Linked DNA regions of Homo sapiens. The protein of the gene in region 2 purifies or fractionates together with the protein of the main gene of each other region. This does not show direct contact. Each region holds a gene or a part of one and is shown on either strand. Other genes may lie near its edges. The genes, in order: CLMN, DYNLT2B and ABHD17B.

The links.
Region 1: the proteins of DYNLT2B (region 2) and CLMN purify together in Homo sapiens (affinity purification with mass spectrometry; 2 studies listed by BioGRID and IntAct, with this or other methods). This does not show direct contact.
Region 3: the proteins of DYNLT2B (region 2) and ABHD17B purify together in Homo sapiens (affinity purification with mass spectrometry; 2 studies listed by BioGRID and IntAct, with this or other methods). This does not show direct contact.

The regions. Positions count from the first base shown.
Region 1 is NC_000014.9:95,197,909-95,207,870, forward strand, and holds part of CLMN (calmin), read right to left. Parts: intron 6,556-9,962; coding exon 4,930-6,555; intron 1-4,929.
Region 2 is NC_000003.12:196,313,400-196,323,206, forward strand, and holds the start of DYNLT2B (dynein light chain Tctex-type protein 2B), read right to left. Parts: upstream 4,842-9,807; 5' UTR 4,754-4,841; coding exon 4,641-4,753; intron 4,193-4,640; exon of another isoform or gene 3,575-4,192; intron 3,444-3,574; exon of another isoform or gene 3,043-3,443; intron 2,833-3,042; coding exon 2,699-2,832; exon of another isoform or gene 2,686-2,698; intron 1-2,685. UniProt on the Homo sapiens protein: Acts as one of several non-catalytic accessory components of the cytoplasmic dynein 2 complex (dynein-2 complex), a motor protein complex that drives the movement of cargos along microtubules within cilia and flagella in concert with the intraflagellar transport (IFT) system.
Region 3 is NC_000009.12:71,871,848-71,881,809, forward strand, and holds part of ABHD17B (alpha/beta hydrolase domain-containing protein 17B), read right to left. Parts: intron 3,237-9,962; 5' UTR 3,234-3,236; coding exon 2,767-3,233; intron 1-2,766. UniProt on the Homo sapiens protein: Hydrolyzes fatty acids from S-acylated cysteine residues in proteins. Has depalmitoylating activity towards DLG4/PSD95. Has depalmitoylating activity towards GAP43. Has depalmitoylating activity towards MAP6. Has depalmitoylating activity towards NRAS.

The DNA.
Region 1 (9,962 bases), on a different chromosome or scaffold from region 2:
GCCCTCATCAATGGTCAAATGCTACTGTTTTTGAAAGATGAAACAAGCAGAGGGCTTATTTATTTTTTCAAGATCAGAAGAAAAACTTGCCATTTTCTAGTCCCTTTGGCTGGGAAAATATCTTTTTTTCTTTCTTTTTTTTTTTTTTTTTTTTTTTTGAGATGGAGTCTTGCTTTTGTCTCCTAGGCTGGAGTGCAGTGGCTTGATCTTGGCTCACTGCAACCTCTACCTCCCAGGTTTAAGTGATTTTTCTGCCTCAGCCTCCGGAGTAGCTGGGATTACAGGCACCTGCCACCACGCCTGGCTAATTTTTGTATTTTTAGTAGAGACAGGGTTTCTCCATGTTGGCCAGGCTGGTCTCGAACTCTTGACCTCAGGTGGTCCACCCACTTCAGCCTCCCAAAGGGCAGGGATTACAGGCGTGAGCCACTGCTCCTGGCCTCTTTTTTTTTTTTAAAGGAAGGCAAGGTATCAGAGAAATGCCTCATCCCATCTCCTTGTCTGCCAGGACCCAAGACTCCCAGACCTCACCTTGGGCTCCTCATCAAACGGGCTGTACCCTCCCCCTACGCTCACCCACACGGATTGAGGCAAGGGCTGCACTTGGGAGCAAATTGCAAGGTGGGCTGGGGATCAGTGGGCAGTGCTTGCTGGGCAGGTGAGGCAGCGGACCGGAGCCAAGTGAGGCAGACGGTGTTGATTTCATTCCCACACTGCACCCAAGGGAGCTCATCTGCCCACGCTCTCACCAAGAGTGAGATCCATGTAAGATGGAGTTCAAATCTAGATCTCCCGATTCTACCACTGCAACCCAGGGCTCTTTCAGCCACACCGCAAATCACCTGTCCAAGTGCTGGACACATGCACTCTCTGCTTTTGGCAATTGCTGGAAGGAAAGCATTCGAGAACAAACTGCCACATTTGTATTTTCACAGGCCACATCCAATAGGCCAGGAGGGAGGATGCAAACCACTAATTCATCATTTTATTTTATTTATTATTTATTTATTTATTTATTTTGAGACTTCAGAGAAGTCAGCACACAGCAGGCCATGGAAGCAAGTGGAGGACTGGGTTCCTCTCCCTGGGGGAAGAGGGGGAAGATGGCAGCCGTGGTCCCTGGCACCTGCAGAGCCATCCAGCCCTCTTCCCATCCATTCCACGGTTGGCAAACACGGAGTGTGCAGCCCTGCCCATGTGGCCCTCGGCCTGAGGATGCTGCTCCTCCTAGGGCTTAGGTAGCCACTCCTCATTGCTCAGATTTGGCAAACTGAATAAAACCAGCCCCCCACTTCTGGCCTAGCTAAAATCTGCAGTGTCTTTTAGGACGAACCTGATCCCTTATATTAATTTCCCTTATTCTCTTTATTGGCTCAACTAATCTTCTAGGTCTTCTACCCCACTCATTCACACCAACTACTCAACTGTCAATAAACTTAAACTTAAAAAAGACTACTCGAACCAGACTTTTTCTGTAGCTCCCGCAGGGTGCAAGCCTCTCTCAATCCTCCAATCAGCTCCAGTCCTTTGGGCCCCTCACTGGGCTCTGATGAGCCAGGGCTTTGTCATGTATCTCAGTGTTTCATTTACCTTCCATTTGCTGTATGCCCCCGAAACCATCGTGTAATAAACCTTTGTCCCCTACACTGGCAGGCCCTGTCAGGCACCGTGCTGGTCTCTAGCATCCAAAGATCAATACACAAATGTCCACACTCTCTCGGGAGAGAAAAACAAAGCCCATGGAAATCAGGTAAGCACTCAAGGAGAGATTGTCAAAAATGTGATCAGCTATAGGGAGGGAGCAATGGCTCTGCCTGGGGAGGAGGTCGGAGGGCTTCTGGGAGGAGGTGCCATTTGCATTGACTTTGAAGGTTGAATAACTGCTTGCCCAGATGGTGGGACCAGCCCAGTCACACCTGGAGGCAGAGGAGAGCCTGGATGTCTGGGGGTGTGGGAGGATGCTGGCTTGGCTAGAGGGGAGGGAGACAAAGAGGGGTGGGTGGCCAGGTTAGAGCGGGAAGAGTCTTGGAGTTCATGCTAAGACATTTAGACTTTGTCCTGGATGCAGCAGTCAGGAAGTGATAAGGTGAGACTTGTGCTTTAGGGTCATCCCTCTGCAAGCTGAGCTGGGGAGGAGGGACAGTGACAGACTGGGGAAGGGTCTGAGATAGAGGCAGAGCCAATGCAATCTGAAATAGCTGGTCACTTTCCCACCTGGCTCCTGCACTTAGGGGACCTCTACCCTTAGTCCCTCTACCCAGAACTTCCTCCCCAGTTCTAGGCTCCCCAAAACCCCCATGCAGCCTTTCTGGATCTGGGTGGGAGCCTCCTTCTGTTGAACTCCTGAATCCCTTCGCTGGGCCCATCTCTAATGGCTGAGGCCACATTCTCTCACAGTACAGTTACTGGGGACTCTGTCTCCCGCATTAGACACCGAAGGCAGGATTTTCCTTCTTTTTTTATCTTCCTGGCAGTGCCAGATGCATCGCTTTCCATGGGGTTGGATGAGTAAGCAGGTGAGCTCATGGAGGGGCTGGAGAGGCCGAGCCCAGGCCCTTCTCCTCCCTGGCTGTCTTGCCCTGGATGCCCTGTGTGCACTATATCCAGCAGGGCATGGCCAATGTGGTTTCGGACTCACCTCCTGGATCCCCAGTGCCGTAGCAGGACGCAGCACTTATTAACGTGGCATCTGCAGGAGGAGCCTCCCCATCAGGCCAGCCGCCCAGGCACCCCCCTTCACTGATCACTCCAGTGGCCCTTTGTGAGCTACTGGGCCAGATGAAGTGGGAACACAAGTGGCAGATAAGAATGTGACCAGCTGCTCAAGCTCAGAAGAGCGCATGTCCCCTTATGCTATTTACACACCAATTTCAAACCACAGAAACCAAAGATTAGTGCCCAACAGGCAAAAGTCCTTTAAAAAAATCAAAACTGGAGTCAAACATGAGGGCTTCTTCTGTTTCTCCTAAGTTACTGCAGAACAGGCTAGTGTTCACTAAGTGCATGCTAGATGTTAGCTACGATGACTGTTTTTTTCTTTAACTTTCTAATGCCTATGTTAGTGGTAAGTTATGAGAGAACATCACATACCGGGGCCTGTGGGGGTCGGGGGCTAGGGGAGGGATAGCATTAGGAAAAATACCTAATGTAGATGATGGGTTGATGGGTGCAGCAAACCACCATGGCACATGTATACCTATGTAACAAACCTGCACGTTCTGCACATGTACCCCAGAACTTAAAGTATAATAAAAAAATTTAAAAATATATATATATATATTTTTTGTTTTTCAACTTTTATTTTAGATTTGGGGGGTTCATGTGCAAGTTTGTTATGTAGGTATATTGCATGATGCTGAAGCTTGGGGTAATTATCTTCCAACCCCCCAAGCAGCCGTGTCAGCTTGGAGACCCTTGGGAGTCACAGCGAAGAAGGCCTGGATTTCCAGCCCTCCCCACCCCTCTCAAAGGCCTTCCATCATTCCCCACGACCCCTTCTATTTCCCACACTATGAGGTTCCCCTGGCTGCAATACCCAACGGTTAGTACACTATTCTCAGTACCTGGGTGATGGGGTCATGAAGGCTGACTCCAGCCTTGAGTTTTAAAGGACTTTTTATTAGTTTGTTTGTTTCTTCCTTTATTGGCTTTTTTTTCCTTTTTTTTTTTTTTTATTTTACTTTAAGTTCTGGGATACACGTACAGAGTGTGCAGGTTTGTTACATAGAAATACAAGTGTCATGGTAGTTTGCTGCACCTATCAACCCATCATCTAGGTTTTAAGGCCCGCATGCATTAGATATTTGTCCTAATGATCTCCCTCCCCTCGCCTCCCACCCCCCAACAATGTGTGTTGTTCCCCTCCCTGTGTCCATGTGTTCTCATTGTTCAACTCCCATTTATAAGTGAGGACAAGCGGTGTTTGGTTTTCTGTTCCTCTTTTAGTTTGCTGAGAATGATGGCTTCCAGCTTCATCCATGTCCCTGCAAAGGGCATGAACTCATTCTTTTTTATGGCTGCATAGTATTCCATGGTATATATGTACCACATTTTCTTTATCCAGTCTATCACTGGGGGGCATTTGGGTTGGTTCCATGTCTTTGCTATTGTAAATAGTGTTGCAATAAACATATGTGTGCATGTATGTCTTTATAGCAGAATGATTTATATTCCTTTGGGCATATACCTCGTAATGGGATTGGTGGGTCAAATGGTATTTCTGGTTCTGAAATCAGATGGAGGAATCACCACACTGTCTTCCACAATGGTTGGACTAATTTACAATCCCACCAATGGTGTAAAAGCATTCCTACTTCTCCACAGCCTCGCCAGCATCTATTGTTTCCTGACATAATCGCCATTCTTACTGGTGTGAGATGGAATCTCATTGTGGTTTTGATTTGCATTTCTCTAATGATCAGTGATGGTGAGCTTTTTTGATTTTTAAAGGACTTATTCCTGTTGGGCACTAATATTTGGTTTCTGTGTTAGAAATGTGTGTGTAACAGGATAAGGGAGATGTGCTTTCCTGATCCCACTGCCCAGGTACTGAGAATAGTATGCAACGGTTAGTTTTTCAACCCTTGCCCTGTGACAATGACTGCTTTTGAAATCATTTCTGCCCCTCCTCTGCTGGACCCTCAAAGGTGACCTCACTTGATCCTCAGAGCATACCTGTGAGTAGGGCCAGGACTGGGGGAAAGCCAGTGAGGTGCCCGTGTGCAGGATTTCAGGAGGTGCTCACTCTCAGGTGCCAACCCTGCATTTGCCCGAGCCTCACAGTAGGTGCCTCTTTGAATTTTGCACCATAGTAGTCCCAAGGGAAGCCCCCTCATCGCTATTTTATGGAGCAAGAAGCTGAGCTTCAGACAAAGAACTATCAAGTTTCCCAGGCAGGACCCAGGGTTCCCAAATCCCACGGTTGAGTACCTGATGGCTGTCCATGGGGTCATTCTCTTTGGTCTCCCTTTGCTGGTGGTCCTCATGGGGGGCCAGTGGAGCGGGTTCTGAGGCTGGTGTGGTACCCACACCACCCCTGCTGAGATACAGCACCTGGTCGCTGGCACTGGGGAGGCTCTCTCCTGGCACCGAGGAACTGGAGCTGCTCTGAGAGCCATCGGCCTCCTCCTCCCTGGAGTCCAGGTCTGGCATATAGCCCTCTGGCTCTTCGAGATCCATTTCTTCATTTTTTAGATCCTCCGGGTCTTCTACATAAGCCTCCAAAACTGCAGCCAGGGGAACCTCATAGTGTGGGAAATAGAAGAGGTCGTGGGGAATGACGGAAACCTTTGAGAGGGGTGGGGAGGGCTTGAAATCCAGGCCTTCTTCGCTGTGACTCCCAAGGGTCTCCAAGCTGACACAGCTGCTTGGGGGGCTGGAAGATAATTCCTCGCCCACACCCTGGAGGTCATCGTCTTCTCCCTCTTCCTCATAATGAGGACGGGTGGACTTTCTCTTGGCCTTTTCATGCACCTCTGGCTTTTTATCCACTGGTGTCTCTTCTGGGGCTGAAGGACAGCCTTCAGCTTCTTCTCCGGAGTCCTGATGAGGTTCATGTTTGTCCATCTTAACTTGAGGCTCTGGCGAATCCTTCTTTTTGTGAGCAGATTTAATACTCCTTTTACCTAGTTTTTCAGCATGATTCTCAAAAGCCTCAGCATCCTCGTCAGGTTTTGTCTCATGAGGTGAAGGAACTTTGTTGAAAGCCTGGCTGGTAGAAGCAAAATCTATTAGGTCGCTGTTAAATTTTGAGGCTTTTAATGGGATGGCTTCAAAATAGTCTCCCTCCTCTAAAGCTTCTACAGTCATCAGGTTAACCTTGATCTGGAAGGAATCGGCCATCACAGTATTTTCTCCTGGGGGTGAAAGAGAGTGACTTTCTTCATCGTGGCGGGCTGTACTCTCTAAAGCACCATTACAGGAAGAAGACTGAGAATTATTGTTTGTGCCCTCCACCAAAAAAATGTCACCAGCGACCTTGTCAGAGGAGGATTCTGGAATCTTCGAGGATTCCTGTTTCTGTTCCTTTTCCTCAGCAACCTCAACTGCCAAGACATGTCCATCCTGCCTCAATGATTCCTTTGCCACTCTTGGGCTCCCTTCAAAGCAAAGGGACAGGTTCTTACTGCAGAAAGGATCCTTGTAGGTGTCAGCCTCAAAGTGAACTGTTTTCTTGATCGGCAAAGAGTTGGACCTCCCGTTCTCCTTTCTGGATGATAAAATGGAGGATTCTGGAGATGGCTCACTGATGTCGCTGGTCTTACCTGGGCCCCCTTGCAGGACCTGGTCAATAATCTGGTGCATGAACTCGGTGGAGCTGTCTGACAGCGCATGGCTGGAAACACCATCCAGGCGGAATTCCTTCATGCTCTCGGGCTTGTCACAGACAAAGACTTTGGAGGGTGGTGGGTGGCTGGTTTCATGGTTAACAGTGTAGGTACGCTCCCCATTTTCAGTCAGAACGAAGACTTTGCTCTCCTGTTCAGAAGGAGTTTCTTTGATGCGAACAAAAGTGGATTCGATAGGAACTTCTTTATCTGAATCGAAAATATCTTCCTGCAAAAAAAAACAAAAACAAACAAACAAAAAAAAACAAAAGAACAACAACAAAAAAAAGCACAGAGCAACATGAGTAAGAAGAATATTTAAGTACAACCCATATCCACCTTTCCCAAAACACAAACAAACAAAAATGGAAAAAGCCACTTCAAACCAATGCAAAGTGTTCTAAGATGTAAATGGTTAGAGAAGACTCTTGTTCCTGCTGAAATATGAAAACATCAGATAAATAAAAATATAAAATACCATGTTTTTTAAAAAGCTATGGATTAACGAATCTCAATGAAACCAAGCTCTAAAGAAGGACAATCCCTTCTAAAGTGAGCAGAGATTGTCAGCCCCTTCATGCTTGAGGACCATGTTGCCTAGTCTGGGTATGGACTTGGAGAAGAGCTAATCCACCTGAGATAAGGAAAGATCAGCCAAATCTTTATTGATTGTGTGGGCTGGTATGAGAGAGTGAATCTGGAAGCCCTCCAAACACAAAAGCAATTTTCTTCATATACTAATTAGCCCACACAGGGAATTTTGCTGTGTAAGAGCCAGCTGGGGGCAGGGCTGAAAAGCAGAAAATGACTCTGTGGTACTGCAGTGCTTGACTCCCAATGCACCGATAGTGTGAATTGACTTCAGCCTCAAATCATTTAAAACCAGAGAGAAGAAATTAAATAAAACTGCAACATAGCTCCTATTGACGCTGATATGATCAAAACGACAGCTCCTCATCTTACACACTTGTTTGGGAAAGGGCTGTATTTCCTGAGGGAAAAAAATGACATCTGCTTCAACCTCTATTGTTCTTTTATATACCAAGTTTGACATAAAATAATTACAAGACATGAAGAGGCAGGAAAACGAAATCCACAATCAAGAGAAGAAATAATCACTAGATATAGACCCATATAGGACCCGGAGTTAGAATTCACAAGCAAAGGCTCTAGAATAACTAATCTGTGCTACAAGCAATACAAAAGAAATAGTTCTTCAGGCTCAAAGAACACAATCTCAGATATAAAGCCTAAAGGAGGGAATGAACAGTACTGGAAATGGTAAATATATGGTCAATAGAAAAGACTACTTCAAAGTTTTCTTAAAAAGCCTACTAGCTATTTAAAGCAAAAATAACAAGGTATTGAGGATTAAAACATATGCAGAAGTAAAGTAAATGACAATATAGTAGCAAAAGTAATGGAGATGAAGTAAAATTATATATGTGATATATATAAAATATATACAAATATGTAAAATATGCATTGTACTTGAAGTAGTATATTAATTTAAGGTAAGCTGATGTATGTTAAAGATGAGTATTATAATCACTAGAACAGCTACTAAAAAGATAAAACAAGGTGATGTGGTTAAAAAACCAATAAAGGGGATAAATGCACACAAAAGAAATCCTTGAATAATCCCCAAAAAGTTAAGAAGGAAGGACAATGGAGCATAGAACATATCAGACCAATGGAAAACAATAACCAAGATGGTAGATGAAACCCGTATAAACGTATGAAAAATGTACTGATTAAATGACAGAGTTTGTCAGAATAAATACAAGACCCAACTGTATACTGTTTACAAGAGACATACTTTAAATATAAGTGTACATACACTGAAAGGAAAAAAATGGAAAAAGTTATGACACAAGCACTAATCATAAGAAAGCTGCTATGGCTATGTTCATATCAGACAAAGCACACTTCAAGATGGGGGAAATTTTATAAAAATAAAGCAATCAAGTCATCAGGAAAATATAATAAATTGTGTCTGTGCACTTAACAGCATAGCATCAACATATATTAAACAAAAACTGGCAGAACTAAGAGGAGAAATAAATTCACAATCACAGTTGGAGATTTTTTTTTCAACATTTCTCTCCTGCATTAATGGATCAGGAAAGCAGGAAAAATCAGTATAAATATAGAATACTAGAATAGCATATTAACATATTAACAGCATATTAAAGAATACCAGTATTCTTTAACTGTATAAGACCCGTTCTTTTCAAATGCATATGGCACATTTACCAAAAGAAACCATGTGCTGGGCCACAAAGCTAGCAACAATGTGTGGTACATGGTCAGGGCCCAACAAATGTTTACTGAAATGAAATAACTCAGCAGAATTGTTAAGAACAGTTCACTGCGTGTCTGGATAAGCTGTAAATTCTCATCTGTATTCCCTTGTAGATGTAAATAGACTGTTCTGCAGTGATGCAGCATGTTCTGTGAACCAGAATGACTTTCTCCAGGTATTATTTCTGGCTCAATCTTTTCCCATCTGCAGTTTCTGACCTCAGCATTGGGGAGATCTGTGTCAGATTTGCTCAATTTTAGCTGTGGCTTTGACTCACACAAATACCGTATGTTTTAGTTGATTTCAAACTCTGCCTACAGATTAAGAGCTCAGGGCTAATGAAAGCCCCAATGCCTAGTATTTCAAAATACAGTAACAGGCCAGGAAAATTGAATTGCAAAATAATAATCACTACTTTTTTTTTTTTGCTTAAAACAACAAAAATTTGTTATGTTACACTTCTGGACATCAGAAATCCAAAACAGGCCTCAATGGACTAAAATCAAGATATTGGCAGGGCTGGATCCCTTTCTTTTGATTCTGTTTAAATTTTTAATTGACAAATAATAATTGTATATATTTATGGAGTATAATGTGATATCTTAAAACGTGTATACATTGTAAAATGATCAAATCTGAGAAATCAATATATTCGTCACCTCAAATATTTATCATTTCTTTGTAATGAAAACAGTTAAAATCTTCTCTTTTAGACATTTTGAAATACACAGTATATTATTCTTTCTTTCTTTTTTGTAGAAAAGAAAATGGGGTCTCGCTTTGTTGCCCAGGCTGGTCTTTAACTCCTGGGCTCAAGCAATCCTCCTGCTTCAGCCTCCCAAAGTGTTGGGATTATAAATGTGAGCCACTGGTTACATTATTATTAACTATAGCCATCTTGCTCTGCAATACAATACCAGAACTGATTCCTCCTATGTAACTGTAACTTTATACCCATTGACCAAGTCACCATTATTCACTAAACATCCACTGTTGTTCCAGGCACAGTACTAGGTACTTCACATAACTGTTTATCCTTCACATAGCCCTGAAATGTGGGTCAGATTTCCATTTTACAGGTGACACACATTCAATAGATACACATTCAATATAGATGTGTATCAGAGAGGTCAAGTCACCAGCCTGAGGTCACACAGCTCCAAGTGGAGAACTGGCATTCCAGCCCAGGAATTCCTGCTTCCACAGCGCCCTGTAAGGGGTCCGTATGTGGTGCAGGGACAGGCAGGAAACACACACACAGGTGGGGGCCAGGATGAAAGTCACGGCATGGAGGATCCTGGGAAGTTCTTCTGTACAAAACAGAGCCCCAG
Region 2 (9,807 bases):
TGGCCAGGATGGTCTCGAACTCCTGGGCTCAAGAGATCCGCCCGCCTCAACCTCCAAAAGTGCTGGAATTACAGGCGTGAGCCACTGTGCCTGGCCAATATTAATGATTGTTTATTGGTGGTGGCATTCAGGTGATTTTTCTCATTTTATTTTTCTAGTGTTTAAATTTTGTATAATGAATGTGTACCATTTTTTACAAAAAATCTTAACGATGAACCTTCATTAAAAAGTCTAAAAACAAAAATGCTAATATACTAACAGCAGTTAATTCTGGGTGATAGAAATACACAGGATTGCTATTCTTTGTACTTTTCTGTATTTTTTAATTTCTTAAACTAAAAACAAATTCAGAAAAAAACAATAAACACAAATATTAAATAGTAACTGCCTTTGGTTAATATTTTAAAACTTTAAGGGGCCAGGCACAGTGGCTCACGCCTGTAATTCCACCACTTTGGGAGGCCGAGGCGGACGGATCACCTGAGGTCAGGAGTTCGAGATCAGCCTGACCAACATGGAGAAACCCCGTCTCTACTAAAAACACAAAAATTAGCCGGGCATGGTGGCACTTGCCTGTAATCCCAGCTACTCAGGAGGCTGAGGCAGGAGAATCGCTTGAACCCAGGAGGCGGAGATTGCAGTGAGCCAAGATCATGCCATTGGACTCCAGCCTGGGCAACAACAGCAAAACTCCATCTCAAAAAAAAACCTTATGGATACTTTTTTGTATTGTCTAGGTTTATTACAACGAGCATGTATTACTTTTATGAAGATATTCTTTCTCTTCAAAAAATGATGTCTTCTAAGAAGAGCAGATGGAAATAGGCCGGGCACGGTGGCTCACATCTGTAATCCCAGCATGTTGGGAGGCCAAGGCTTGCAGATCTCTTGAGGGTCAGGAGTTCAAGACAAAATTAGCCACGTGTGGTGGCGCATGCTTGAAATTCCAACTGCTTGGGAGGCTGAGGCGGGAGGATCACTTGAGCCCAGGAGGAGGAGGTTGCAGTGAGCTGAGATCACACCACTGCACTCCAGCCTGGGAAACAGAGCGAGACTCTGTCTCAAAAAGAAAAAAAAAAAAAAAAAGAACTTTTCAGATCAGACGGTATAACATTATTAACAAAAGAGAGAGACCAGGCGCAGTGGCTCACACCTGCAATCCCAGCAGTTTGCGAGGCCTAGGTGGGAGAATCACTTGAGGCCAGGAGCTCAAGATCAGCCAGGGCAACATGGCAAGACACCATCTCTACAGAAAAATTTAAAAATTAAAAAATTAGCCAAGCACGGTGGCACAAGCCTGTAGACCCAGCTACTTGGGAGGCTGAGATGGGAGGATCGCTTGAGCCAGGAGGTCAAGGCTGCAGTGAGCCATGTTCACACCACTGCACTCCACCCTGGACAAAACAGCAAGACCCTATTTCAAAAACAAAACAAAACAAAAAAAAACAAAACAATCAGAGAGACAAAGAGAACAGGGTAGGAAAAGCACAAAATATGCTCTACAGATGTAGTTTGGTAGGGGTCGAGGGTTGAGTAAGGGAAGTAGCTAAGGATTAGGGAGGAGAGATGGACTGCAGGTACTAAATGCCAGGCTGAGGACTTGACAGCTTGGGGGAAGAAACAACCAAGAAATACAGGGGAAAGGAGTCCCTGTACTTTCTGGTCTTTCTGAATACTAAGATTTTTTGGACAGTGTTTTATTTCACATCTTCACTCTTTTCCCCCATCTGCAAAAACTTACATGAGTAAAAGTCACCAAATAATTAGAGAAGACAAGACACTGAAGAAAAAGTTGTCTTTAATAGAATCCACAGCTAACATTCTATTTACGTTTTTTTAATAGAGATGTTTTATTTTTTTATTTTGCTTTTTTTTTTTTTTGAGACAGAGTCTCACTCTGTCACCCAGGCTGGAGTGCAGTGACGCGATCTCAGCTCACTGCAACCTCCACCTCCTGGGTTCAAGTGATTCTCCTGCCTCAGCCTCCCAAGCAGCTGGGACTGCAGGCGTGTGCCACCACACCCAGCTATTTTTTGTATTTTTAGTAGAGACAGGGTTTCATCGTGTTAGCCAGGATGGTCTCAATCTCCTGACCTCGTGATCCACCCGCCTCAGCCTCCCAAAGTGCTGCGATTACAGGCGTGAGCCACTGCGCCCGGCCTTTATTTTGCTTTTTAATACACATGAGGTCGGCTGGGCGCGGTGGCTCATGTCTGTAATCCCAGCACCTTGAGAGGCCGAGGCGGGTGGATTACCTGAGGTCAGGAGTTTGAGACCAGCCTGACCAACATGGAGAAACCCCGTCTCTACTAAAAATACAAAATTAGCCAGGCGTGATGGTGCATGCCTGTAATCCCAACTACTCAGGAGGCTGAGGCAGAAGAATCACTTGAACCCGGGAGGCGGAGTTTGCAGTGAGCCAAGATCATGCCATTGCACTCCAGCCTGGGCAACAAGAGTGAAACTCCATCTCAAAAAAAAGAAAAATAGACATGAGGCCTCACCATGTTGCCTAGGCTGGTACTGAACTCCAGAGCTCAAGCAATCTTCCTGCCTTGGCATGCTAAAGTGTTGGGATTGTAGGCGTGAGCCACCACACCTGGCCCCAATGTCCTTTGTTTAAAGATGGAGAGGGGGCAAATGGGTAATACTGACTCTGTGAAGAGAATGAGTCATTTCCAGTTATCACCATGATTACCTTTTAATTTATCTTTAATGTTTTCTGATAAATGTTTTGTAAGCTGAGGCATTTCTTCTGGAGAATATTCAGCATTTGCCAGTTCCTCCTTGAGCACAGCATGGATACAGTCTTTAACCACAGAGGGCCTGAACCTGAATGGAACAATTTGTGAACATCCAGTCGGTGACTCCACAACCCCAGCTTACCTTCATACCGCAACTTCTCCCATCTTTTTGTCATTAGTACCACTTAATCCTTCTTTTTCATATTTTTTATTATAAAATATAAACAAATTAAGACAAATCATAGGCCACATGTGTATCTTCAACCTGGACCTGCACTGAACTTCAACACATTCCAACTCATGCTCCATATGAATGTTTATTAGGCAACTCAATACATCCAATAATGAGCTTCTCATACTCCCCTCTCCCCCAAAACAAAATATATACTTGTTGTTAATTTTGTTCTGCACGCTTTCACAAAATAAAATAAAATAAAATAAAATAAAAAAATACGGCTGAATGGCATTCTGGGCATTCAGAACCTTTTACCAAGATAACTGAGGGTATCTTTCTCTGTGTTCATTCTACCCAAGGGAAAAATCCTGTATGAAATTTGTATCACTTTTTCTGTGAGTTACCAAGAGAATAAAAATAAACAAAGAAATTTGTATCACATTATAATCAAAATTCCTGTTTTCCATATTTGCCAAGCAAATATGGGGTGTGTGTGTGTGTGTAAAGTTAGTGATCTTACAAACCTAGCTGAGTACCCTCTGCTCTGGCCCGTGAGCCTGACATTTTTTTCAGTGTGTGTGTGTGTGTGTTGTGTGGTGTGTGTGTGTGTTGTGTGGTGTGTGTGTGTGTGTGTAAAGTTAGTGATCTCACAAACCTAGCTGAGTACCCTCTGCTCTGGCCCGTGAGCCTGACATTTTTTTCAGTGTGTGTGTGTGTGTGTGTGTGTTGTGTGGTGTGTGTGTGGTGTGTGTGTGTGTGTGTGTGTGTGTAAAGTTAGTGATCTTACAAACCTGAGTACCCTCTGCTCTGGCCCGTGAGCCTGACATTTTTTTTCAGTGTGTGTGTGTGTGTGTGTGTGTGTGTTGTGTGTGTGTGTGTAAAGTTAGTGATCTTACAAACCTAGCTGAGTACCCTCTGCTCTGGCCCGTGAGCCTGACATTTTTTTTCAGTGTGTGTGTGTGTTGTGTGTGTGTGTGTGTGTAAAGTTAGTGATCTTACAAACCTAGCTGAGTACCCTCTGCTCTGGCCCGTGAGCCTGATATTTTTTTCAGTGTGTGTGTGTGTGTGTGTGTGTGTGTGTGTAAAGTTAGTGATCTCACAAACCTAGCTGAGTACCCTCTGCTCTGGCCCGTGAGCCTGATATTTTTTTCAGTGTGTGTGTGTGTGTGTGTGTGTGTGTGTAAAGTTAGTGATCTCACAAACCTAGCTGAGTACCCTCTGCTCTGGCCCGTGAGCCTTAATCCTAGCGAGGGCTCGCTGCGGTGGTCTAAGGGCCTCCAGATCCCACCCGGGTAGGACTTCGCACAGATGCAGCTCCCGCGCCGGGAGTGAGCCCATCCTGGCACCCGTGTGCACAGTCACCCTCGAATCACGGCTGAACGGCATCCGACGCGAGTGGCTTCCTGCCTCTATTCTACCCATCTCCTTACTCAGGACGCCATCGCGGGTTTCCCAGGGCCAACCATTCCCGCCGCGCCACCCTAAGACGCGCCCGGCGCCCAAACACTGAGGAAGCGGGTGGGGTCCCCTGCGGCCCCTGCAGCGGGAGGGGCGCCCGGACGTCACAGCAGGGCCGCCCGCCCGCCTCGCGGCCTCCCGCCTCCCGCCCCGCGGACCCCGCGCGTCCCCCGCGCTCCTTCCGTGGCCCAGGTCCCAGGCGAGCTCCGCCCCTCAGACCAGCGCGCTCGAGGTCGCCCCGCCACAGCCCGTCCTCTACCCGCCTCTGCTGGAAAACAGGCCGCAGAATATAGGTGTTCTCGGGCTCCCCTGCGTTCTTCTCAGCCTCAGGCACCCCGTCGCCCACCGAGAAGGACACTCCGATGGACGTGGCCATGCCGGGGCTTCTCGGTCCGGGCGTAGCTCGCGATGAAGGCCTAGCGGGTTGCGGTCGCGGCCGGCAGCAGGGAAAGCGTCTCCAGGGCAACAGGGCCGCCCTCCCGCCTCGCTGAAGCCCGCGAGCGCCCCGCACAGCCGCCCTCCCTGCCCGCGCCTGCGCACCGGCTGCTGGGCGGGAACTGGTCGCGTCCGGACGCGCGACAGCTTCCACCCGCCTCAGGCAGTATCAGCCGCGCCGCAGTCGGAGGAAATAGACGCGGGGCCTGAGGCTCCTGGACTTGAGGTATTAGGCTGGTGCAGAAGTAATTGCGGCGGCCGGGTGCGGGGGCTCAGGCCTGCAATCCCAGCACTTTGGGAGGCCGAGGCGGGCGGATCACCTGAGTCAGGAAGAGTTCAAGACCATCCTGGCCGACATGGTGAAACCCCATCTCTACTGAAAATACAAAAATTAGCCGGGCGTGGTGGCGCGTGCCTGTAACCCCAGCTGCTCTGGAGGCTGAGGCAGAATAATCTATTGAACCCAGGAGGCCGAGGTTGCAGTGAGCCGAGATCGCGCCACTGCACTCCAGCCTGGCGACAGAGCGAGACTGCGTCTCAAAAAAAGAAAAAAAAAAAAAAAGGAAGGAAGGAAAGAGACTTAGGCTGCATTCCCCGCTTTTAAAAATATATATTTATTTTTATTTTTTTAAACGAAGTCTCGCTCTGTCACTCAGGCTGGAGTGCAGAGGCGCGATCTCGGCTCACTGCAACCTCCACCTCCCAGGTTCAAGCAATTCTGCCTCAGCCTCCCAAGCAGCAGGGATTACAGGCGCGCCCCACCACGACCGGCTAATTTTTTTTGTATTTTTATTAGAGACGGGGTTTCACCATATTGGCCAGGCTGGTCTCCAACTCCTGACCTCAGGTGATCGCCCACCTCGGTCTCCCGAAGTGCTGGGATGACAGGCGTGAGCCATCGTACTCTGCCGCATTCCCTGCTTATAAGCACCAGTCCCTGGTCCTGTTTTAGAAGGCTGTTGTATCTTGGCCTCTGCTAGCTTCAAAAACTAAGGCCCGATGAGGTAGCTCGTGCCTGTAATCCCTGTTTACAGGAGAGGCTGAAAGGGCAGGGATTCCTTTTTTTTTTTTTCCCACTTGAGACAGGGTCTTGCTCTGTTTCTCAGGCTGGAGTGCAGTGGCACACTCACCGCTCACTTCAGCCTCGACCTCTTGGACTCAAGCAGTCCTCCCACCTCAGCCTCTGGAGTACCTGGAACTACAGGCGAATGCCACCGCGCGTGGCTAATCTTTTTAATTTTTGTAGAGATAGGATCTGGCTATGCTGCCCAGGCTACTATTGAACTCTTGGGCTCAAGTGATTATCCCACCTCAGCCTTCCGAAGTGCTGGGACTACAGGCATGAGCCATCACAGCCAGCTGGGATATTGTTTTTCGAATCGCTGTCATGTTCTGTACTATATGCAGTTCCTGAAAGAATGGAGGCAAGAAGGAGTCAGCTAACCACTGTGAACTGTCTTAGTGCCAAGGACCCACCCTTCTCTCCTTGGGGTCCTGCTGACCCATCAGAATAGGGCTGAGCCAGGATGGGGCTTGTGGAGATGATGTGTATGAGTGTGCATGCACTTGTGTGTGCATGCCTAACATCCAAAACTAGATATAAATTCTTTAAACTTTTCATTAGTTGGCCAGGCACGGTGACTCGCACCTGTGATCCCAGCACTTTGGGAGGCCGAGGCGGGCGGATCATGAGGTTAGGAGATCAAGACCATCCTGGCTAACATTGTGAAACCCGGTCTCTACTAAAAATACAAAAATTAGCTGGGTGTGGTGGCATGTGCCTGTAATCCCAGCTACTTGGGAGGCTGAGGCAGGAGAATTGCTTGAACCAGGGAGTCGGAGCTTGCAGTGAGCCGAGATCACACCACTGCACTCCAGCATGAGACTCTGTATCAAAAAAAAAAAAAAAAAAAAAAATTCTGCGTGAGTTGTGTGGAGGTGTCAGTACCTTTCCCCAGCAAGAGAAGCTTCTCCATATCAGGCATATCCTAGCCATGACCCTGAAACTAACCAGCCAAGAGGGAAATGTGAGACAAGCCCAGGCAAGCTTCCTGGATGTTGTATGCAGGAATAGGATGTGCTCTCTGGACTTGGAGACTTCCTGCCTGCTCAAGAGGCTGTGCCTCCTTGTGTCTCCCACAGGCCTCTGTGTCCACCTTCCCCACCCTGGCAGGCCTGCTAGGCCAGCAGCCCTGGAGAGGAAAGGGTGAGGTGGTGTTTGAAGGGACCTGCCTCCTACGAGCTCTGCTGGTTGGACTGTCGGATGACAGAACCGTGCCTCTGAGCCTGGGAGAGGGAGGCACCCCTGTGTTCTGGAAGCCCCCAGTGCTTCAGCAACTCCTCACTGAGGCAGAATAGTGGAGGAATCAAGCTGGGATCCAGGGGACTGAGGAGGGGATAGAGCAGCACCTGGGCCCCACATTCCCTTCCAACAGAGCCTGGGGTGCTGTGTTTCCGGGAGGGTTTTTTTTGTTTTTTGTTTTCCCGAGACAGAATCTCGCTCTGACCCCCAGCCTGGAGTGCAGTGGCATGATCTCGGCTCACTGCAACCTCCGCCTCTCGGGTTCAAGCAATTCTCCTGCCTCAGCCTCCCGAGTAGCTGGGATTACAGGTGCACACCACCACACCTGGCTAATTTTTGTATTTTTTATAGAGACGGGGTTTCACCATGTTGGCTAGGCTGGTCGTGAACTTCTGACCTCATGATCTGCCTGCCTCAGACTCCTAAAGTGCTGGGATTACAGGTGTGAGCCACTGCACCCGGCCTCTTTTTTTTTTTTTTTTTTTTTTTTTGTGAGACAGAGTCTCTGTCCCCCAGGCTGGAGTTCAGTGGTGCAATCTCGGCTCACTGCAACCTCTGTCTCCTGGTTTCAAGCAATTCTCCTGCTTCAGCCTCTGAATAGCTGGGATTACCGACATGCACCACCACGCCCATATAATTTTTGTATTTTTTGTAGAGCTGAAGTTTCACTATGTTGGCCAGGCTGGTCTCAAACTCCTGACTTCTGGTGATCCACCCACCGTGGCCTCCCAAAGTGCTGGGATTGCAGGTGTGAGCCACCGTGCCCGGCCAGAGCCTGGGGTTCTCAAACTCGTTTCTGGGGACCGCCCACCACTTTTCTTGCCAGTGCCCATCTTCCAGGTTCCTCCCAGGCTGCTTCTGCCTGCCTTGTCCTCTTCCTGCCTGTCACACCACACTCTCCCACCAGCATCTTCCTCATTCCGCTCTGACTCTCCTCACCACCCAGCCCGACCTGACTGAAAACCCCGCAGTGGGAGAGCAGGAGGCCCCTGCTTCTAGGTGCCGTGTGAGAAGCAGCTGTGAGGTCGGGTTGGGTGGCTCACGCCTGTAATCCCAGCACTTTGGGAGGCCGAGGTGGGCGGGTCACAAGGTCAGGAGTTCAAGACCAGCCTGGCCAATATGGTGAAAACCCATCTCTACTAAAAGTACAAAAAAAATAGCCAGGTGTGGTGGCGGGTGCCTGTAATCCCAGCCACTCAGGAGGCTGAAGCAGGAGAATCGCTTGAACTTGGGAGGCAGAGGGTGCAGTGAGCCGAGATCATGCCACTGCACTCCAGCCTGGGCAACAGAGCGAGACTCCATAAAAAAGAAAAAGAGATTTAATTGGCTCACAGTTCTGCAGGGGTTACAGGAAGCATAGCACCCACATCACTCAGCTTCTGGGGAGGCCTCAGAGAGCTTTTACTCATGGCAGCAGGTGAAGAGGGAGCAGGCGAGTCACATAGTGAGAGCAGGAGCAGGCGAGAGAGAGGCCAGAGGTGCCACACGCTTCTAAATGACCAGATCTCGCGGGAACCCACTATCACAAAGACAGCTCTGAGCCGTGAGGGATCCGCCTCATGATCCACACACCTTCTGCCAGGCCCCACCTCTAGCACTGGGGATCACAATTCAACATGAGATTTGGGTGAGGACAGATATCCAAACTGTGTGGACAGAGGTGATGCTCCTCTACTTGTTGAACTCTTGAACACTAGTGAAGAGAATGCTGGTGTATTAGTCTGCCAGGCTGCTGTTGCAGAATACCATGAACTGGGCACTTAAGCAACTGAAATAGATTTTCTCACAGTGCTGGAGGCTAGAAGTCCAAGATCCAGGTGCCAGCAGGTTTGGTATCTCCTGAGGCCTCGCCCCTGCGCTTGCAGACAGCCGCCTTCTCACTGGGTCCTTACAGGGCCTTTTTCTTTGAGCCAGTGTAGAGAGCTCTGTTCTTTCTTCCTCTTTTTATAAGCACACCAGTCCTATTTAATTAGGGTCCCACCCTATGGCCTCATTTAATCATTTGTTGTTGTGTTTTTTTTTTTTGAGACGAGGTCTCACTGTGTTGCCCAGGTTAGTCTCAAACCCCTGGTCACAAGTGATCTTCCCACATTGGCCTCCCAAAGTGCTCAGATTACAGGTGTGAGCCATTGCGCCCAGTCTCATTTAACCTTAATTACTAATTTAAAGGTGCCATCATGGCCAGGCGCGGTGGCTCACACCTGTAATCCCAGCACTTTTGGAGGCCAAGGTGGGCGGATCACTTGCAGCCAGGAGTTCGAGACCAGCCTGGCCAACATGGTGAAACCCCCGTCTCTACTAAAAATACAAAAATTAGCTGGGTGTGGTGGCACATGCCTGTAATCCCAGCTACTCAGGAGGCTGAGGCAGGAGAATCACTTGAACCTGGGAGGTGGAGGTTGCAGTGAGCCGAGATCACGCCACTGCACTCCAGCCTGGGTGACAGAGCGAGACTGTCTCAAAAAAAAAAAAAAAAAGTGCCACCACCAAAGACTGTCATATTGGGGGTTAGGGCTTCAACCTACAGATTTGGAGGAAACACTATTTAGTCCACAATAACTGGAGAAGTTGAATTTAGAAGATGGGGGTTGGGGCCAGGCACAGTGACTCATGCCTGTAATCCAGCGCTTTGGGAGACCAAGGTGGGAGGATCACTTGAGGTCAGGAGTTCAAGACCAGACTGGGCAATATAG
Region 3 (9,962 bases), on a different chromosome or scaffold from region 2:
GGACTTTGTGGGAAAGGTGCATAGTGAATGCCAGGCCCCGAGTTTCTTTTGGTCCATCAGAAGGTCAGAAATTGGAGTTATTATGGATATCCAATTTTCCCAAAAAGGACATTCCAATGTTCATTCATCCCAAAAATGAACATTATTTAAGTTCATTATTTATTTTCTCTCTCCTGGTTACTTAAGTCCTAACTTTTAATCAGGCAAATAAAATAAAAGGCATGTATTCTAATTACACACATTTCATTAGATGACAGAATTCCAGAATTGGAAAAGATCTTGGGGATCATTTAATTCAATCTCTTCATTAAACAGATGAGGAAACACAGGCTCAGAGAAGTAATATTTCCTAAAGTACCTACACTTATGAAACTCCAACTATATTTTGGTTTCAACACGAAAGAAAACACAGGTCTAAAATTCTAAAATATAAGTGCTAAAATAGTATGTGGGATTATTGATGAAATCTGCCCATTCCTGATTAACACTGGCTATCAAATATGTTAAAAAAATTAAGGCTGAAAATCATTTTTCAAAGTTTTCTTCAAATTGGTAAATGCCAAGATTAAAAGAAAAGAAAAGAAAAAAACAGTAAAGTTGACCACTTAAAAAATGGGATTTTTTCATATAGACACAGAACACTGAACTGAATACTAACATGTTTTGTTTGAGTAAAGTGACCCTTTTGCGTTACTGGGAAGCACTAATAATGAAAGCTGGCTATCAGTTTTAACTTAGCACCCTTTAAAACTTCATTATTCCACTGAAGTTAACCTTTAAAAGTGTGAACCTTATCACTCAATAAAGCTATTTTTTTAATTATAATACTTTCTTATAGTTGTTATACGTTATTCAACTGACTGACTCTAAAAAGTGGGCACTCAGTTTCTGTTTGTTTTAAGGCTTGATGGAACTGATATCAATATATGTAAAAGATTTTTATTTAAAGCAGTTTTTAATTTATCAATTAAACAATAACTTTACCATCCCCCATCAACTCTTTACCTACTACTTGCCATCTTTTTTTCCTTATTCCCCATATTTATGTTTTTATATAATTTCAGTTGATTTTAAGAATCCCTTTTATGTAGAACTTCGCTATGAGAGCATAACTTTATTACATTTCTTTGGAGGGAAAAATAGTTTTAAAGATATTTTTAATATCTTTAATAATATTAACTACTTTATTATTAAAATTGAGGAAATTTTTCCTGACTAAATGAAATCTTTAATATTTAAACATTAAATTAGAAACAGTAAGTTTTCTTTATATCCTATAGCTTCAGTCTAAAACATCCTGGAAGTCAGATATTTTATTTTCATATAATATAAAGAATAGCCTATATTAAGGTATCTGTTTATTGTACACTAACCTGACTAATAATACACTGAAGTCTACCAAATTGTGATTTTTTTTTCAAGAAAAATGTTTAGGTATCTTGGTGACTAGAAAAGATTAATGCAATTTCTAGTTCCCCAAAATGTATGCTGCTATAATCAAAGAATAACTGACATAGTAAGAAAATTTTATTAAACAATTTATCATAACATTAAAACTTCTTTTTTTTTAAACAGAGTCTTACTCTGTCACTTGGGCTTGAGTGCAGTGGTGTGATCTCAGCTCACTGCAACCTCCGCCTCCCAGGTTCAAGTGATTCTCCTGCCTCAGCTTCCCGAATACCTGGGATTACAGGCACCCGCCACTGTGCCCGGCTAATTTTCGTATTTTTAGTAGAGACGGGGTTTCACCATCTTGGCCAGGCTGGTCTCGAATACCTGACCTCGTGATCTACCTGCCTTAGCCTCCCAAAGTGCTGTGATTACAGGCATGAGCCACTGCGCCCAGACATTTTTTTTTTGTATTTTTAGTAGAGATGGGGTTTCACCATGTTGGCCAGACTGGTCTCGAACTCCTGACCTTGTGATTCGCCTGCCTCAGCCTCCCAAAGTGCTAGGACTACAGGCGTGAGCCACCGCACCCAGCCTAAAAAATTTTTTTAAACTTGATATAATCTCTCCCAATTTTAGGAACACAGAATATAAAGTAAAATCTCAGTTTTACAGAATGAATACTTGAAAAATAATTCCAATAAGGTATCTTTAAGTTGTACTTCCCAAGAAGTAATCACATAAAATAATGCAAATCTTGGCTTAAGATTTTAATAGAAAGCAATCCAGCCTCATACTGTTAATGACAGATCAAGTGAATAATTAGCTATGTCAGTATTTTCTCTCATTTCCTTGAAAGGTTGCAGCTTTGAATAAACATTTTTTATATCACACTCCAATAAGAAAGCTTACAAAAACCAAACATTTGTCACTGGATTTAATTTTTTTTTTTTTTTAACTTTTTAAGAGATGAGGTCTGACGCTGTCACTCAGGCTGGAGTGCAGTGGCACGATCATAGCTCACTGCAGCCTCAAACTCCTGGCCTCAAGTGATTCCCCTGACTTTGTCTCCTAAGTAACTAGGACTATAGGCATGCACCATGGACTTCCAGCTAAGAATTTAAGTTAAAAAAAACATACATATATACGTGTATTAATGTAGACAAACAAACCTGAAACTGTCTTTAAAAACTTTGTTTTGCTATTATGTGAAATTTAAAATTGCTGTCTAAAATATTTATTCACAGGTATATAATAGTAAATATAACCTCTATATAGCAGTTATGTATAATAAAAACAGCTTTTATTCTATTCTTACACAAGATATTTTTAGCTAACCACCACGAGTATGAAAAATAAATTCCAACCACAATTTACCTTGTCCTAAGAGCAAGCCAAGCAGCTTCAATGTCTGCATAGAGGTTCTTCTCTGTGGGTTTCCCGGAACTGGCACCATATCCAGAATAATCATATGAGAATATATTACAATTAATCCGTGATCCTAGTCCTATGTAAAAGCTGCTCATTTGACCAAGATCAACAGCATTTCCATGTGAGAAGAGTAAAGTGTATTTCGCATTGGGTGAACAACGTACAAACATACAAGCAATTCTGTTGCCTTTACTGGTTCTAGTCATGAAACACTCAATAGCATCTTTTTCTCTAGAAGAATACTGCCAGTCTGCTCGTTCAGACAGATGTAAAGTCCAACGGCTTCCGCTTTCATCACACATCAGTGTGTAAGTTGGATCAGGTGGCAAAAACGCTAATTTTGAAGCAATCTTCCCTGGACAAGGTGGACAGCAGAAGAGGCAACATAGCTCACTAAATGAAAGATTATTCATGCTCTGAAAAAGAAAAGGAGATAGCAAATATTTTAATAACTGAATGTAGACTCATACAATAAAAAGTTAAAACACAGACATGGGTAAATTTTATTGGTGGTTAATGACTATTACTATTTTAGGTATGATTCCAAACAGATTTTTGGCTTCTTTTTTTTTTTTGAGACGGAGTTTCACTCTTGTTGCCCAGGCTGGAGTGCAATGGCGCAATCTCAGCTCATCATAACCTACGCCTCCCGGGTTCAAGTGGTTCTCCTGCCTCAGCCTCCTAAGTAGCTGGGATTACAGGCATGCGCCACCACACCCGGTTAATTTTGTATTTTTAGTAGAGATGGGGTTTCTCCATGTTGATCAGATTGGTCTCGAACTCCTGACCTCAGGTGATTCACCCACCTCGGCCTCCCAAAGTGCTGGGATTACAAGGAGTAAGCCACCACGCCCGGCCTTTGGCTTCTTTCTAGAAGTACTTTAAATCCTGGGGTGAGGCAAATATTCCTGACCAGCAGACAGACTCAAATCCTATATGACAGGTTTCAAATAGCAGTGATTATTATCTCATTTAACATAAATGTCAAAAATGATAAAGGTAATATTTGCCATTTCTTTACAAATAACCTGAAGGTATGAAATATCTTTAGTGTAGTCTGTAATTTCTATGTAACTCAGCAAAAGTTCTTAGAACCTCATGGAGAAGCTAGGAATTTAGCATAAAGTGAATACATACTAATAGCATTTATGAAGCTATTTGTCAGGCATTGTGCCAAGTGCTCTATGTGTGTTACTTGGTTTAATTCTCAGAACAACTGTGTAAGTTGTTGTGAGAAAGGAAACTTGCACAAGATGAGGCAGTGGTGGAGCCAGGATTTGACTCCAGGCTGTCACTACACTATGTTACTGGGCTACACTGCCTCACAGATTCAGAACACGCTCAGAAGACTATCACTTTGGTCACAGTGCCAGTGGCCCAAATAACCTATAGAACATTAAAGTGTATGTATGTATGCATGCATGTATGTATGTATGTAATTACTGCCCAAACTAAAAAGGCTATAATATAAAGTTTATTGTGGAAAAAAGGTAAAATCTACTAAAGGTAAACTTTTCTAAATGTTTGGAAGAGAAAGAGTACAAGGTTTAAAGTTAGGAAGCTGGGGTAAAATCCTAACTCTACCACTTACCGTTTGCCAGCTGTATGTCCTTGGGCAAACTATCTCTTTGACTCTCATTTTCTTCATAAGTAAACAAGGCCAATACCTACACTGAAGGACCTGGTTGTGAATATCAAATGTTGGTGTAGTGAAGGCCCATCATACAACATACGGTGAGTGATGGCCATATCATTGTCACACTTTAACTTAGGGACAAAAATAAAGTAATACTTGTTAGTTCTATCAGTATTTCCTTCTATCTTGTCCTTTTTCAAATTCCTGTCTCTTTTTAGCAAAATTAGGCCATTGCTTAGTTCCAGAGAAAAGGCATTTAAAACCAACACCTTACAGGTTTGGTGGCATCCAATTTTCTCCAAAAAGAAAAAAAAAAAATCTAAATATAAGAATAGGGGGAAAAAAGTACCCTATTACACCAAAAATGGGAAGAAAACAACTCAACAGAGTGACTAAATGGTTGAGAATATCTGGGGGAAAAAATGCCCTTTTCACTCAATACAGAATCAAATATATCCTATAATGCTCAGTATAAATGTGTTTATAAGAAGCAGCAGAAAAAAGCACAGGAAGAGAGGAACAAGGGTAGGTATAACATAAAAGACTTCAAAAGGTGAGGGAAGGGCAGAAAAACATCTTGGATATTAGGAAATGCTTTAATTGCTTCCTACCTTTATTTCTTTTTAGGCTTCAAAATACAGCCTGAATAAGTTAATGGCTTACTCTGGTTGGAACAAGAAATAGGACAGAAATAACAACTAAGTGTCATCTGCTAACTTTAACTGAGGGCTTCCTGAAGTGTTGTGCTGAGAATGATTCTAAGGCATACACAGGGCTTAGCCAGCAAAAGATGTGATAAATTAGTGATGTTTACTATAGACTCTGGCTACAAATTTACTATCCTGGTCAGGAGGATAAAGTGTCTGTTGAAGAAGATGAAAGGGAAGGAACTCAAAGGATCTGTTCCAGAGGAGGAAATGACCTGCAGAAAGATGATGAGGTACAAGGTATAATATCAGTGCTGTCTGTTTAATATCTGTCTATGGTTATTTGTCAACCCTGATTACCTCATATACCATTGACTGCTGAGCCACAATAGCCTTTTAAAAAGCTTAATAAGTAAATGGTACGTATCTAGACTATAGTCCTATAATTTATCTCTTAGCCAGAAACACTTTTGTTGTTGTTTTTCGAGACGAAGTCTCACTCTATCGCCCAGGCTGGAGTGCAGTGGTGCGATCTTGGCTCACTGCAACCTCCGCCTCCCACATTCAAGTGATTCTCCTGCCTCAGCCTCCCCAGTAGCTGGGATTACAGGCACACACCACCATGCCCAGCTAATTTTTGTATTTTTAGTAGAGATGGGGTTTCATGATGTTGGCCAGGCTAGTCTCGAACTCCTGACCTCAAATGATCTGCCTGCCTTGGCCTCCCAAACTGCTGGGATTACAGGCATGAGCCACCGCACCCAGCAGAAAAACTTTCATACACTATAATAAACTACTTTTGAAATAAAGCTGGCTGGTTGAACATATATAATGCTGTGAAGAAGTTTCTGGGGATGAACACCAAAGGAGAGAAGCAGAAAGGAGAAAAACTGCAGTGCCAGGGTCTAGTTTAATGACAACTTCACTTCCTTAATGCTGACAGAATGACTCCCCTCTTCCACTGCCCAAAAGCCAGATAACTGGGGCTTATTTAATGACAACAACTTGCAAATGATCACTTTCCTAATAAGAGGCCTGGTATAGGGCAGCAACACAGACCTACTTTCAAAAGTTAATTGAATACTTTTTAAGTCTGAAAAATTTCACAAAAACTATAAACAAAACAAATAAATCTAGGTTTTAGTATAGTGTGAGCAAGTTACTGAAGAAAAACATTTTATTCTGTAAAAAAAAAAAAAAATCACTGAAATAGCTTGTTAAACTTAGATAATTTCAAGTCCAACTTGTTCTTATAAAACTCATGCCAGACGCAGTGGATTGCTTGAGCAGTTAACAGTTGAAAAACACATCAGTGAGCTAAAAGATCAGGTTGAGTAATTTGCAAATATGGAATTTTTTTGTGGGAATTAAGAGACAGAAAACAACAAAATTTAATAGATAGAAATAGAAGTAGAAATATCACTATCCATACTATAGAAGTTCCAGGAGAAAATAAAGATAAGACTATTTAAGAATTTCTCAGAATTAAAGGGGGAAAAAAAGTCAGATTGAAACACCTCAAAGTGTACCAAAAAACAACAAACTACTTAAAAATGAACAAGATCAGATGAACATATGACTTTCTAATATAAACACTGGAAGCCAAAAGACAATGGAGAGATAATTTTAAGCTAAAGATGAAATCAAACTTTTAACCTAGAATTGTACATAGAACAAAAATACAGTTTTAATATAAGGATAAAGGTATCTGGGCTGGGTGTGGTGGCTCACTCCTGTAATCCCAGCACTTTGGGAGGCCAAGATGGGAGGACCACTTAAGCAACATAGGAAAACATTGTCTCTATCAAAAAAAACAAAGAGAGAGAGAGATCTGCAGGCCCACAAAAACTCGTAAGACTTAACCAAATCAAGTCTCTCTTTGAAAAACTCCAGCAAGGAGGGAAGGAGATAAATCCAAGGGAAGGCCAGGCACAGTGGCTCACACCTATAATCCCAACACTTTGGGAGGCCGAGGTAGGAGGATTGCTTGAGCCCAGGAATTGAAAACCAGCCTGAGCACCATGGCAAAACTCCATCTCTATAAAAAATACAAAAATTAGCTGGGCATGGTAGTGTGTGCCTGTAATCTCAGCCACTGGCGTGGCTGGAGTGGGAGGACTGCTGGAGCATGGGAGGTCAAGGCTACAGCGAGCTGTGATAGAGCCACTACACTCCAGCCTGGGCTACAGAGTGAGAGCCTGTCTCAACAATAACAACAAAACAAACAAAAACCCCCCAAATCCCAAGGGACTTCTATGAGATATCTGAGATATGAGAAATAAAGGAGAATAGTTAATACAATGTTTTTTGTACAAGTGAGCAATGGGAGCAAGGAGGGTGAAGACAACAAAGTATATCCCTAAAAATCCAGAACAAAAACTTTGGTGAATATGAATACGAAGAGGATTGACAAAAGAGAGACTACTTAAGAGGTAAAAATGTGCTGGGGTACCTGACTTGTTGAGGATGCTACTGATACTGATAAGCTTAAGACATAGAAGAAAAGCCTGAATATAAGCATGACTCTTAATAAGTCAGATATAATCATCAGAAAAATGATAGTGCAGGGCACATCTAAAGGAGTTACAATTATCCATTACAAAAGTCTAGCTTTAAATATTAGTGTCCAACTTAAGAAGAGAGTAAACAAAAAGAAAACAAGAAAAAGAAAATTAAGAGCAGATATCAACAAAACAAAGAACAAAAAGCAATGGAGAACCAACAGCTGATTTCAGAAAAGGCTTCCACTACTACTAATAGCAAATAGCATTAACTGAACACTTACAAAGTGTCAGGCACTATTCTAAACACTTTTCACATATTAACTAATCCTTTCAACAATCCTCTGCTTTAGGGACTATTATTACACCCATTTTGCAATTGAGAAAACAGAGGCATAGAATAGTTACATAAGTTGCCTAATGTCACAAATCTGATCAATGGAACTGATACATGACAGAATGACTCTGTAACCCAAACTCATAACTACTGTTTTGTGGAAAGGGTACTCAGACAAGACTGATCACAAGAAAGAGATAAGCAAAATAAACGAAATAATGTACTAAAGGAAAAAGGACTTTGAGCTACAGACATAGTTTCTAGAAATGAAAGAATATCATGTGTCAATAAATAACCTAGACAAAACTCACGCACTTCTTGAGTAATATAAAAGGACAAAATTGGCACAAAGGCTAGAATATGCAAATAACCATCAGAACTTCAAAGGGAAATCAAAGACCACCTTCACTTAAAATACTTTCATTAAGTGAAGTTATTCCAGAAAATGAATGCTGCTCAACAATTGCTTTCTGAGGCTATTATAACCTTTATCCCAAAACTTAGAACTGTAAATAAAACTGTAAGTCCACTTCACTTTGAACATGCATGAAAAAACCTTAAAAACCTTAAAAAAAAGAAACAACATATAAAGTGTATATAAATACAAAATACAAAATCAAGCTGAAAGACAAGAATGACAAATCTTCCAATGTTAAACCAAAGTAATTCACATTAATGAACTAAAGAAAAAAAACACATGGTTTTCTTAATAGATATACAGGGACAAAACAATATGTTTGGTAGATGATATAATTACCCTGATAGAAAACCAAAAGAATCTAGAAAGTATTAAAACAAATGAGACTTCTCAGCAATTTTGGCAAATGCATGAACTTAGGTAAAGTTGGTACAGTTCAATGTTAGCTAGCATTAAACAACTAAAAATAGTTAAAAAAATTATAAATAAGATCGCACCCACAACCAAAACGACTATCTAGGAATTAATATAAAATAGAATGCAGAAAACCTTTATGCAGAAAAATTTTAAATAAGAACATTAAAAAATGGAAAGAATGACTTAATAGCATTGAGAATGTCAACTCTCCCAGAATGAAAATTTCAAGGTAATTCCCATCAAAATTCCAGCAGAAATTTGAGGAACTCAAAAGTGATTATAAAATTTATATAAAAGTATAAAGGTCTATAGAAAATAAAAAAATAAAACTAAGAAAAAAGACTCCTCCACTTATAATCAAGAAAAACAAAATGCAGAGAATTCATACAGAACCTCAAGGAACCCAGAATAGCCAAATCAATCTTGAAAAGAAAACCTAAGTTGGAGGATTCACACTTCCCAATTTCAAAACTCATAATAAAGCAACAGTAATCAAGACAGAATGCTATTGGCATAAGGACAAATATATCTAAGGAATAGAACTGAGAATCCAGAAATAAACCTGACATTTATGGTCAGTTGATTTTTGACAAGAGTGCCAAAACAATTCAATGGTGAAAGAAGTGTTTTCAACAAATGGTGCTAGGGCAACATAATATCCACATGCAAAAGAATGAAATTTTACTCTTACTTCACACCATATACAAAAATCAACTCAAAATGAGTCAAAGACTAAATGTAAGATCTAAACTATGAAGTTCTCAAAAGAAAATATAGGCATAAATCTTTGTGACCTTGGGTTATAAAATGTTTCCTTAGAAAAGATACTGAAAGTACAAGTAACAAAGAAAAAAAAATAGATAAATCAGACTCCAAAATTAAAAACTTTCATGTTTCAAAAGACACAAGGATACTGAAAGGACAACCTACTGAATGTGAGAAAATACAAATAACCTTTACAATTCAACAATTTTAAAAGGACAGCTGGGCACGGTGGCTCAAGCCTGTAATCCCAGCACTTCGGAAGGCCGAGGCGGACGGATCATGAGGTCAGGAGATCGAGACCATCCTGCTAACATGGTGAAACCCTGCCTCTACTAAAAATACAAAAAATTAGCCGGGCATGGTGGCACGTGCCTGTATTCCCAGCTACTCGGGAGGCTGAGGCAGAAGAATCACTTGAACA